Linked DNA regions of Homo sapiens. The protein of the gene in region 2 purifies or fractionates together with the protein of the main gene of each other region. This does not show direct contact. Each region holds a gene or a part of one and is shown on either strand. Other genes may lie near its edges.

Region 1 (3,335 bases), on a different chromosome or scaffold from region 2:
CTCTGCGAGCCCCTGGGGAGGGGTGGAGGTGGAAGGGGATGAGGACACTTCCTGCTTGGGTTCTGCTTGGAGAGCAGAAGTTGGGGGAGCCTGGGGCCGAGAGGAAGCTTGATCCCCTCCCCAGCTGAATCCCCCACTGGGGCTGGGGGAGGTCAAGAAAGGAGGGCTGCCGGTCCAGGCAGAAGTGTGGGTTCCAGCCTCGGGACCTCAGCCCCTCTCTCCTGCGGATGAGTGGAGGGTAGCAGTGAGGGAGGCCCCAGAGCGGGACGGACCCATTCCTTTGTTCTAAGTGGAGGCTGCACCCTCCCCTTCCCCAGGATGGTGGAGAGAGAAGGGGACTGGTTGTGGATGGTTTGAGTCTGGTGCCAGGGTCTGGGCTGCTGGGCGGCAGGGCTGAGTGTCCAGGGGTGCCTCCAGCTAGCCCACCTGGGGCAGAGGCCATAGCCTTACCTGCCCCTGCATCCACGTTCTTCCTCCAGCCCTCCCTTTAGGCCCTGCTCCTGGGCGTCCACGTGGGAGCATCGAGCTGCACAGGGCCCAGTGTGTGCCTGGCCTCCCTCGCTGCTATCTGTGTGGAGCACTCACTGTCTGCCCAGTACTTTCTGTATGTGTAGAGTCCTCCTTGAGACAGTCCTGTGAGGTAGAGTCTTTTCCTTGCTATGAGGAAACTGACGCTCAGAGAAGTTAACAGAAGTCAAGGTGCAAACTTGTTCAGGTCACCAAGTTCACAGGCCACAGACTCATCTTCAGAACTCAGTGGCCTTAGTGGCACCCTCCCTCCCCTGAAACACTGCTCCTGCCTCTGCTCTCCTCCCAGGTGGCATCGAAGGCTGGCATCTACGAGATCCTTAACGAGCTGGGCTTCCCCGAGCTGGAGAGCGGGGAGGACCAGCCCTTCTCCAGGCTGCGCTACCGGTGGCAGGAGCAGAGCTGCAGCCTCGAGCCCTCTGCCCCCGAGGACTTGCTGTAGGGGGCCTTACTCCCTGTCCCCCCACCCACAGGGCCCCACGCAGGCCTGGGGTGTCTGAGGTGCTCTTGGCTGGGAGCGGCCCTGAGGGGTGCTGGCCTTGAAATGATTCCCCCACTTCCTGGAGAGACTGAGCGGAGTTGGGAGCCTTTTTAGAAAGAACTTTTTATAGGACAGGGAGACAGCACAGCCATCCCTTGCAAACCACCAAGGTGTGTGGCTGACCTCCAGGGAGGAGCACTCACTGGAGTGCTCACAAGGTGCACACTGCTGTGTGTACCTTGCAGACAGGCCGGCGTTCAGCCTCCAAGGGGCTCACTCCCCCAGTTGCCAAACACTGTGGATCTCTCTGTCCTCTTCTCCCCTCTCTCAGATTGGCCTGGCAGCCCCTGGCACAGAGCAGACCCGGCCACTGGTAGCTCCCCACTTCCTTACTCCTGCTGCTCTGCCATTGCCGCTCCCCTTGTTGCTGCCCAAGCACTGCCCTCGGGCGTCTGGCAGCCTGAGGTGGGTGGAGGGGACAGTGTTCTGGATAGATCTATTATGTGAAAGGCAGCTTCACCCAGTTTTCTGGACTCTCATGCCCCCATCTCCGACCTGGGAGACTTCAGGAATGACAACCTACCCAGCCTGGTGGGGCTGGCAGGATGGTGGAGGTTTCTCAAGGAGCTGGAGACTTCAGGGAGCCCCTCTCATGGGGAGGAAAGAGCTTCCAGGGGGCGAACGCAGCACAGAGGAAGAGGCCTGCTCCACTTGTCTGGGAACCTGGGCAGGAGGCACAGAGGAAGCCAAGGCCTGGAGCTGCAGGTCCCCCGGCATCTCTCTCTGTCCCGGCAGCCCAGGATGGCCTGGTGCCCCCACCTGCTGCAGCAGGAGCCCCAAGGAGTGCTAGCTGAGGGTGGTTGCTGGGGTGGTCCTCATGGACAGTGAGGTGTGCAAGGGTGCACTGAGGGTGGTGGGAGGGGATCACCTGGGTTCCAGGCCATCCTTGCTGAGCATCTTTGAGCCTGCCTTCCGGTGGGAGCAGAAAAGGCCAGACCCTGCTGAGTTAGAGGCTGCTGGGATCCACTGTTTCCACACAGCGGGAAGGCTGCTGGGAACAGGTGGCAGAGAAGTGCCATGTTTGCGTTGAGCCTTGCAGCTCTTCCAGCTGGGGACTGGTGCTTGCTGAAACCCAGGAGCTGAACAGTGAGGAGGCTGTCCACCTTGCTTGGCTCACTGGGACCAGGAAAGCCTGTCTTTGGTTAGGCTCGTGTACTTCTGCAGGAAAAAAAAAAAAGGATGTGTCATTGGTCATGATATTTGAAAAGGGGAGGAGGCCGAAGTTGTTCCCATTTATCCAGTATTGGAAAATATTTGACCCCCTTGGCTGAATTCTTTTGCAGAACTACTGTGTGTCTGTTCACTACCTTTTCAGGTTTATTGTTTTTATTTTTGCATGAATTAAGACGTTTTAATTTCTTTGCAGACAAGGTCTAGATGCGGAGTCAGAGATGGGACTGAATGGGGAGGGATCCTTTGTGTTCTCATGGTTGGCTCTGACTTTCAGCTGTGTTGGGACCACTGGCTGATCACATCACCTCTCTGCCTCAGTTTCCCCATCTGTAAAATGGGAGAATAATACTTGCCTACCTACCTCACAGGGGTGTTGTGAGGATTCATTTGTGATTTTTTTTTTTTTTGTACAGAGCTTTTAAGCATTAAAAACAGCTAAATGTGAGTGCACCTGGCTGCTAATATGTCTTTAGTGTCAGACAGACGTTCTAGAACTGGTACAACAGGCTGAGGTCCCTGCCCCTTCAGAGTAAGGGTGGGCAGGCAGAGTGAGTTGAGAGCACCTGTTCTTGGCACTTCCAGCTCTAGAGCAGGCGGGTTTTTGCAGACACGCATCCCCAGTTTTGCCTCACCCTCTTACACTGGATGTCAGGCTGAGCTCCTCCTTGAAGAAAGCAACGGAACCAGCGAATTCTCACTAACATATGAAGGATTGCTGCATCTAGGGAAACAGTATAGAGCAAAGTGGAATTGGGGGCCTGTGAAGGAGCCTGGATCTCAGCCTCCACTTTCTCCCCTAACCCCTGTGGGCCCCACCTGACCCCTTTGGGCCTCTGGTTGATTGAACACACCTCACCCCTGGTTGAGTGCTGGCATTTAAAGAGTCAGTGGGGAGGGTGGGGTAGAGACAGCACTGACTCCAGGCCTCTTCCCCCATGCTTGCAGGGTTAGGGGAACAAGGTTGTAGTTCCGAGGTCAGCTGGGGTGGGCAGAATGGAACCCAGAGCCCCCACCGCCCCTAGGGTTGGTGTTCTCCCCAGACTAGGAGAGAAGGCCCCGGGGGTTCTTTCCCAGCCCAGCAGGGTATGGAAGT
Region 2 (3,651 bases):
CTGGGTGACAGAGCGAGAATCTGTCTGTCTCAAAAAAAAAAAAAAAAAAAAAAGTTCTAATGGGTACTACAGGTGAGGCATCTTTTAAAGCACAATGTTAGTGGTCGATTCATGCATTAGGATCAATAGGTCAGTGTTCCTATTTCAAGTTAAGAGTTGGCACTGAAAATACAGCTGTAAGTGGTTAATTCTTGAAACCACTTGCTAAGTGAGAACTCGGACAAGCTTGTAATTCTCACTCCCCCACATCGTAAGTCCCATCCCCCATACATTTGCTAATGTGTTCGCCTCGTATGTGGCAAAGAGCCTTCCCTGAACCCCAGCTGTGAGGGTCCTCTTGAGTCCCCCAGTATGCTGTGTACATCCCCTTCAATGCACCGACCACATCCCACAAAGTCACCCATTTCTGGCTTTCCCAGAAGACCTGCCCTGCGGGACAGCAAGTAGGTACTGATCATCCCCATATGCCAGCCTACTCAGTATCTGGCCTATGGTTAGTGACCAATACTTATCTGCTGATGAAAGAACAGTTATGAGAATTCGGTATTTTATCTCTGAAATGTATTGCATAACTTAAAAAAAAAAATCCCTGCATCACCTTAATTTCTTAATTAGGTTTAAACAGGGCGCCTATCTGGATGACAGTGGGAAGGTGCTAGGGTTTGGGGCCAAGTGAATTCCAGTGACATGGGGGTAGACGCGGATAAGGGGCCTCCACCATGCCCCCAGATCATCTCAGAGAAAACCAAGTTCCTCACCTTAAAAAGAAACCAGGTAACGAGCAGAGGCTTCTGGAGTCCCAGAGCCCTGCTGCTGGGCCCCAGTGGAGTGAACGCAAGGCCCCCATGCCTGGGCTGGGCAGTGGTACTCACGGTGCTGGTGACACCTGGCCAGGAGCTCCAGGTCATCAATGTGGTAGTAGTCATAGCCTGAGGTTCCCAGCACTTCAAAAGGCAGGTATCCTATGATTGGAGGTGCTCTGCACAAGGACAAGGAGGACTTGTCATCAGGGAGGAGACACCCTGCAGGGCTCACCCTGGTGGCCATGCCTTTCCATAATGATCAACATGGAGGCCTCATTTCTCAAGAACAAGGGGAGAAAAATAACTTTGTAATGGTCAAAATCAGAGAGGCTGTGTTTTCCAAAGGGCTCAGCTTTTTTTTTTGGCATATAGATACTCCTTTCCCTTGGCATAACTTGGCCCAAATAACAATAAGCTTTATCACTACTGGGTAATTAAAAACAGCTACAAATTGGATCAGCCCAACACCAAAGTGTAATATAAATTAAAGGGTGGGGAGGGGAGATTTGGAGTTCTTCAACTGCAAATAATGTTACAAAAGAAACAGTAAAGATTGGGCTAAAAGATCAAAGGATGTTGAAAAAAATGAGATGAGAGATTTCTCTCACACTTGCTGCTGCCTTACTGGGAGCCGGGAAGGGCCTCAAGTGAGGATCATCCCAAAGATGGCCCGGGGCTGAGCCATCAGACCCAAACACAGAACATATTCACGATGGGGCAGATGAAGTTGGAGGGAAACCACCCACCCTTGGCAGGGACGACTTTTCCTAGTGCCAGAGAGTCCTCCTCTTTCAATGGACCAGGGCCGACTCTTCTCTCCCAAGGAGAGCCTGGCTCACGCAAACAAGACTTGAGAAGGGCCCAACCCAAATATGTTTTTCTTTTCTCAAACCTGTGATCCAGAAATAAAAATTTCCATTCCAAGCTATGCCTTGAAGTGAATTCCTCTAAAGGTTCGTCAACTATGCACATTTCCTGTATTGGAAGCAGAAAAAAAAAAAAAGTTGCTTGGGTGCCAGATGCTCACCCTAGGTTTGTTCAAGAGGAACGCGTGGTGGGTAACAGAAGTTAAAATCATTTCGAGCAAGTCTCCAAGTCGTGTTGGACTGAAACTCATCATCTGTAGCTAATTTCGGTATTAGCTGATACTAAATTTATTTCACAAGCTAGGGAAAAATACCTAGGAGCCAGAATGTCACACCATCCCTTCCCATTATCGAGAAGTGGCAAACATGTGGAAAATGGCTTTTCATCGGAATCTGAATTACTCATTTAACTCAACATTCATGCCATCGATGTTGAAGCAATCACAGATGAGAGAAGGCAGACAAACCCCCAGCGCTCCAACACTCGGTTCTCACCCAGGCCTGGCCTGCATGGTATTAACGCCGGTGTGAAAGGTGGGAAGATTTACAGTTATCAGACAGCACTTCTGCGGGCTGAACAGCAAGCGATGCTGCCTTCAAAGAGAACCACTTGCAGGAAACGGGGCAGGGGAAAGGGCGTGTGTGCAGGCACAGAAGCCAGACACTTCGATTTTCAAAGCCAGTGACAACTTCACTGCAATTTATTCCCTCCCAAAAGACCATTAATTACATATAACAAAATGTGAGTCAATCATAACAGCTCCGCACAATGAACTGCCTCTCAGGTACTTGCCTTTAAGAATTGTGGTGTTGCCAGACGAACGGTGGCAATGAAGCAAACCTCCTTTCCTAGTGGCACCCGGCAAGGTCTTGAAAGGGTGTTGTCAAAACCATTACAGGAGGGGCTAGGCACTGGGGGGTTGGGAAGAAGAGGACACATAGGTTAGCCCTGTCTGGTGACAGCAGCCAATCCCTAGTTGGCACTTAACTGTAAGCCAAGCGCTGCCCCCAGGGTTTATGTAGAGTATATTAACTCATTTCATTTTCACAACTGGATGAGGTAGGTCAACTATTATTCCCATTGCAAAAAGAGGAAACCGAGGAACAGAGGGAAGTAACTTGTGCAAGACCAAAAAGCTTGCTAGAGCTGGGATTTGAGCCCATGCTGGTCACCAGCATTCAGCACTGCCTCTCACTTCCACTAGCCCTATGGCTTATAATGCTGGGAAAAATAGTCTACAAAATGAGAACACAGGCCAGGCACAGTGGCTCACGCCTGTAATCCCAGCACTTTGGGAGGCTGAGGCGGGAAGATCACTTGAGGCCAGAAGTTCGAGACCACCATGGCCAACACTGTGAAACCCCATCTCTACTAAAAAACAAACAAACAAACAAAAACAAAAATTAGCTGGGCATGGTGGTGTGTGCCTGTAATCCCAACTGCTTGGGAGGCTGAGAATCACTTGAACCTGGGAGGCGGAGGTTGCAATGAGCCAAGTTAGCACCACTGCACTCCAGCCTGGGTGACACAGTAAGACTCTGTCTCCAAACAAAACAAAACAAAACAAAACAAAACAAACAAAAAAAAGAGAAGACAGCCTCATTCTGCAGTAACGGTTTGAATACTCCAGCCAGTGTTTTAAGGTGAATTCTATAATCAGTGTTCCTGATACTGATGGTCCCAGGGAAAGTAGGGGTGTCTCGGCATCATTGACACCCCCTTCCCTGCCCCTGTCTTGGCTGGCATACCTGGGGTTCAAGGGCCTCTGTCCTGAAACTCCCCCTTGGGAGCCCAGGCTGATACAGGGGTTGGGTCTGGGCCACTGAGGAGACAGGGCTCAGGATTTAGGGGTCACCCCCAGAGGAACACAACGCCTACAACAAAACTTGCTAGTTCCCTAGTGTGGCCCAGGTGACAAAATCTGCTCTCACGCATCTTCTTACATCTTCTCAAACATCTAGGAGGGCATTACTGTCCTAGG
Region 3 (3,651 bases), on a different chromosome or scaffold from region 2:
TTTGTAAAATCTAATAATTGGAACAAGTCAGCTAAGTATCTGTTAGGAGAGTGGGCATAACAGTAGCATTAGGAAGTACAGTCCAGTAAAATCATGGGAAAACAATGCATTAGATATTTTCCAGATCCATTTGCCTTGTAGGTCATCCCTAGAGAGGGCATGAAGTTTTGCTTCTGACTGAGCTGGAACAGGCTGATTTCTACTTCAAAAGACCTCTTGATTTTGGATCTCCTATGACAAGGAAATATGGTTTCTGGCCCTAGCATTGCTTGCCTTAGTATATTCCGGAGTATATTTGAACATCAAGAGGACTCTAGATCGTTCCAGCCTTTGCATGGGAAATGAACTGGCCTAAAGTTCCTAACCTTGCATCCAAGAAACTGAAATGTGTGCAAAATGGTGCGCGCATGTACATGTATGGGAAGACAGTTCGTAATGTTCTTCAGATAAATCAAATGACCCCACCTGACCCCACTGATGATGTGAAACTCTGTCAGGCTTGCCCTCTGCCTGGCTTTATCTATACTCAGATTTTGGGGACCAGGTTGGAACTGGATTGGCTTTCAAACATTGGAGACAAGTAGCCATGTCCTTCTTTATTAGATTTCGTCTGAATCAATACTTTAATTAAAAAATAATGTATAATTGAGGAGTAATAAACAAAGGCAGTATAGCAGAATGGCTCAGATGGGTTTTAGAGTCAGACAGAGGATGGAATCCTAACTGCATCACTTAGTAACTTGATGACTTAAAACAAGTTTTTTCGACTTTCTAAGCCTCAGTTCCCTGTTTATGAAGGGAAATGGTAACTGCCTCATGGGGTTTTAAATAGATTAAGTAACTCATGTAAAACATTACACATAGTGGTAACCTATAATCAGCACCAATACATGGTAGCTGTTATTATTTTGAATGGTTTTATGATTGTTGGATGTCACTGCCTTAAAAACAGGAACCCATAGACTCCTGACAATATGGGTTTTTTTCTTTTCTTTCTGTTTTTTTTTGTTGTTGTTGTTGTTTTTGAAACCAAGTCTTGCTCTGTCACTCAGGCTGGAGTGCAGTGGCGCAATCTCAGCTTACTGCAACCTCCACCTCCCAGGTTCAAGCGATTCTCCTGCCTCAGCCTCCCAAGTAGCTGGGACTACAGGCGCACACCACCAAGCCCAGCTAATTTTTTGTATTTTTTAGTAGAGACGGGGTTTCACACGTTGGCCAGGCTGGTCTCGAACTCCTGACCTCAGGTGATCCACCTCCCTCAGCCTCCCAAAATACTGGGATTACAGGCATGAGCCATCACACCTGGCCCAATATGTTACTTTTTAATCAAAAGTTATTTTCAGGTAAAAGAGGTTCCAGGTGTGACTAAATGAAGATACACTTTGGTGTAAAGTCACATTTTAACTTACACCAGGAAATCCATATTTTTGTTGTTTCAGTTGTGACCTTAGCTATGTCATTACTTTACCTACCCATTTATTTTTCTGAGTGATAGCACTTGAATAAAAATAGGTATTTCCTCCAGTTTTCCCTTAGAAAAAGTTTAAAAAGTATTTGTGATATCAGACACAAATAGATGTTCAAACCACTATGTGAGAGAAGCACTGTCCTTGAAATTGTTCTAAGCATTTGAGTATCCACTTGCCCCTTTGACAGAAGCTTCACTCCTCTATCCTTTCAGCAGTAATGAGTAGTGTGCTGCTCTCCTCCTTTGTCTTCAGGGCAGCAGCTCATCCCAGCTCCAGTCGTGGACTGTCCAGCCCTCCTTTGAAGTGATCTCAGCACAGCCACAGCTCTTATTCCTTCATCCACCTGTACCATCTCCTGTCAGTCCATGTCACACTGGTGAGAAAAAGTCCGACTCCAGGAACTACTTGCCCATTCTGAATTCTTACACCAAAATAGCCCCACATCCAGGCAAAAGGGGCCTTTCCCTTGGCCCAGAAGAAAAAGGAACAAGTGGAGTGCAGAAGAAAATCTGTACTGAGAGACTTGGGCCTAGCTTGTCTTCCAGTGAGCCAACCAAGGCTGGTGCTGTCCCATCCAGTCCCTCGACGCCAGCACCACCCAGCGCCAAACTTGCCGAGGACTCAGCTCTGCAGGGTGTGCCCTCTCTGGTGGCAGGTGGAAGTCCACAGACTCTTCAGCCGGTATCCAGCAGTCACGTGGCTAAAGCTCCCAGTCTGACCTTCGCTTCCCCCGCCAGTCCTGTCTGCGCATCAGACAGCACTCTCCATGGGTTAGAGAGCAACTCTCCCCTTTCACCACTGTCCGCTAATTATAGCTCACCTTTATGGGCTGCAGAGCACCTCTGCCGCAGCCCAGATATCTTTTCAGAGCAGCGGCAGAGCAAACATAGGCGCTTTCAGAATACCCTAGTAGTCCTACATAAATCTGGTTTGCTGGAGATCACTTTGAAAACCAAGGAGTTGATTCGTCAGAATCAGGCAACTCAGGTAGAACTAGACCAGCTAAAGGAGCAAACCCAGCTGTTTATAGAAGCCACCAAGAGCAGGGCCCCTCAGGCTTGGGCCAAGCTGCAGGCATCTTTAACACCTGGGTCCAGTAATACAGGCAGTGACCTAGAAGCATTCTCTGATCACCCAGCCATATAGCACAGAGGCATATTTTCCTGTTACTTGAGTGGTTCTTTTAGCTCATTTGCTGTTACCTACTCCTGTTTCCCAAAGCTTATGTAAGAGCTTTTCCTTCTAAACTTAAACTGTGTTGTGGTTCACTTAGGAAGCCACGTGCCAATACCTGGCTGCTGTCTTAACTCGTAGTCTGGGCACAGGATACATATGTCCCCGTCCCACTGAGGACCTCAGTTTGGGAGTGCCCTTGAGCCCCTTTTCCTTAGCCTGCAGGTGCTTCAATGGATCATGGGGCAAAGCAGGAGATGATTGTGTGGGGCTCTTCCTGCTGTCACCTCCCATCATCCCACTCTCTCACCAGGATCAAGGGTACAGTAACACGAATGAGCATACAGAGCAACACCTGTTGAGCCAGGGAGTAGGTGACACAAGGAAACCTTCATGGATCTTCCCTTGCCTGTCTTAGTCACAGAGAGAAATAAGAGGAGGTTGTTTGCATCCCACAAGGCATCGTACTAGTTGGGCGAGACCTAAAATTCCCTGGGCACAGGTTGCACCTGGGTGTGAGCACTTAATCACTCAACGCTTTGTTTTCTTACACTTGAAAATCAAGGGAAAGAGTAGTACCATCTGACTCCTACACTTTCATTACAAGTCAGATTTTTCTTAAACTAGCAGGCAAAAACAGTACTTCCAAATTTTAAGGTATGGAATGAATGCAGTACATCTGGAATTGTAGTCGATGAATTGCTTTTTTGACTTAGAAGCTGAAGAAAATAGACATAGCCGGCATATCTCATGGTCAGGAGCTGGACGATTCTGGTAACTTAGGCTTTTTTTCTCTCTTCTTTTGAAACAGTGTAACCTGTTTTATGTCTAAAAATCTTAAGGATAGTTTCAGTGGTTCCTGGGATGTAGTATAAGTTAACTCTGCTGCCATCTTGTTTTTTTTTTTTTTCCTTTATTTTGATAAGTGATTATTATGCTTGATAAACTTTGAATTAAATACAGTTGTCTTGAGGGTATGATAAGTCCACAAAAAATTGGAAAGCATCTT

What was found.
Region 1: the proteins of NPAS2 (region 2) and PALD1 purify together in Homo sapiens (affinity purification with mass spectrometry; one large-scale study listed by BioGRID and IntAct). This does not show direct contact.
Region 3: the proteins of NPAS2 (region 2) and CIPC purify together in Homo sapiens (affinity purification with mass spectrometry; one large-scale study listed by BioGRID and IntAct). This does not show direct contact.

Annotation. Positions count from the first base shown.
Region 1 is NC_000010.11:70,565,764-70,569,098, forward strand, and holds the end of PALD1 (paladin), read left to right. Parts: intron 1-817; coding exon 818-970; 3' UTR 971-2,687; downstream 2,688-3,335.
Region 2 is NC_000002.12:100,962,988-100,966,638, reverse strand, and holds part of NPAS2 (neuronal PAS domain-containing protein 2), read right to left. Parts: intron 2,582-3,651; coding exon 2,463-2,581; intron 1,779-2,462; coding exon 1,696-1,778; intron 980-1,695; coding exon 873-979; intron 1-872. UniProt on the Homo sapiens protein: Transcriptional activator which forms a core component of the circadian clock.
Region 3 is NC_000014.9:77,111,704-77,115,354, forward strand, and holds part of CIPC (CLOCK-interacting pacemaker), read left to right. Parts: intron 1-1,721; coding exon 1,722-2,615; 3' UTR 2,616-3,651.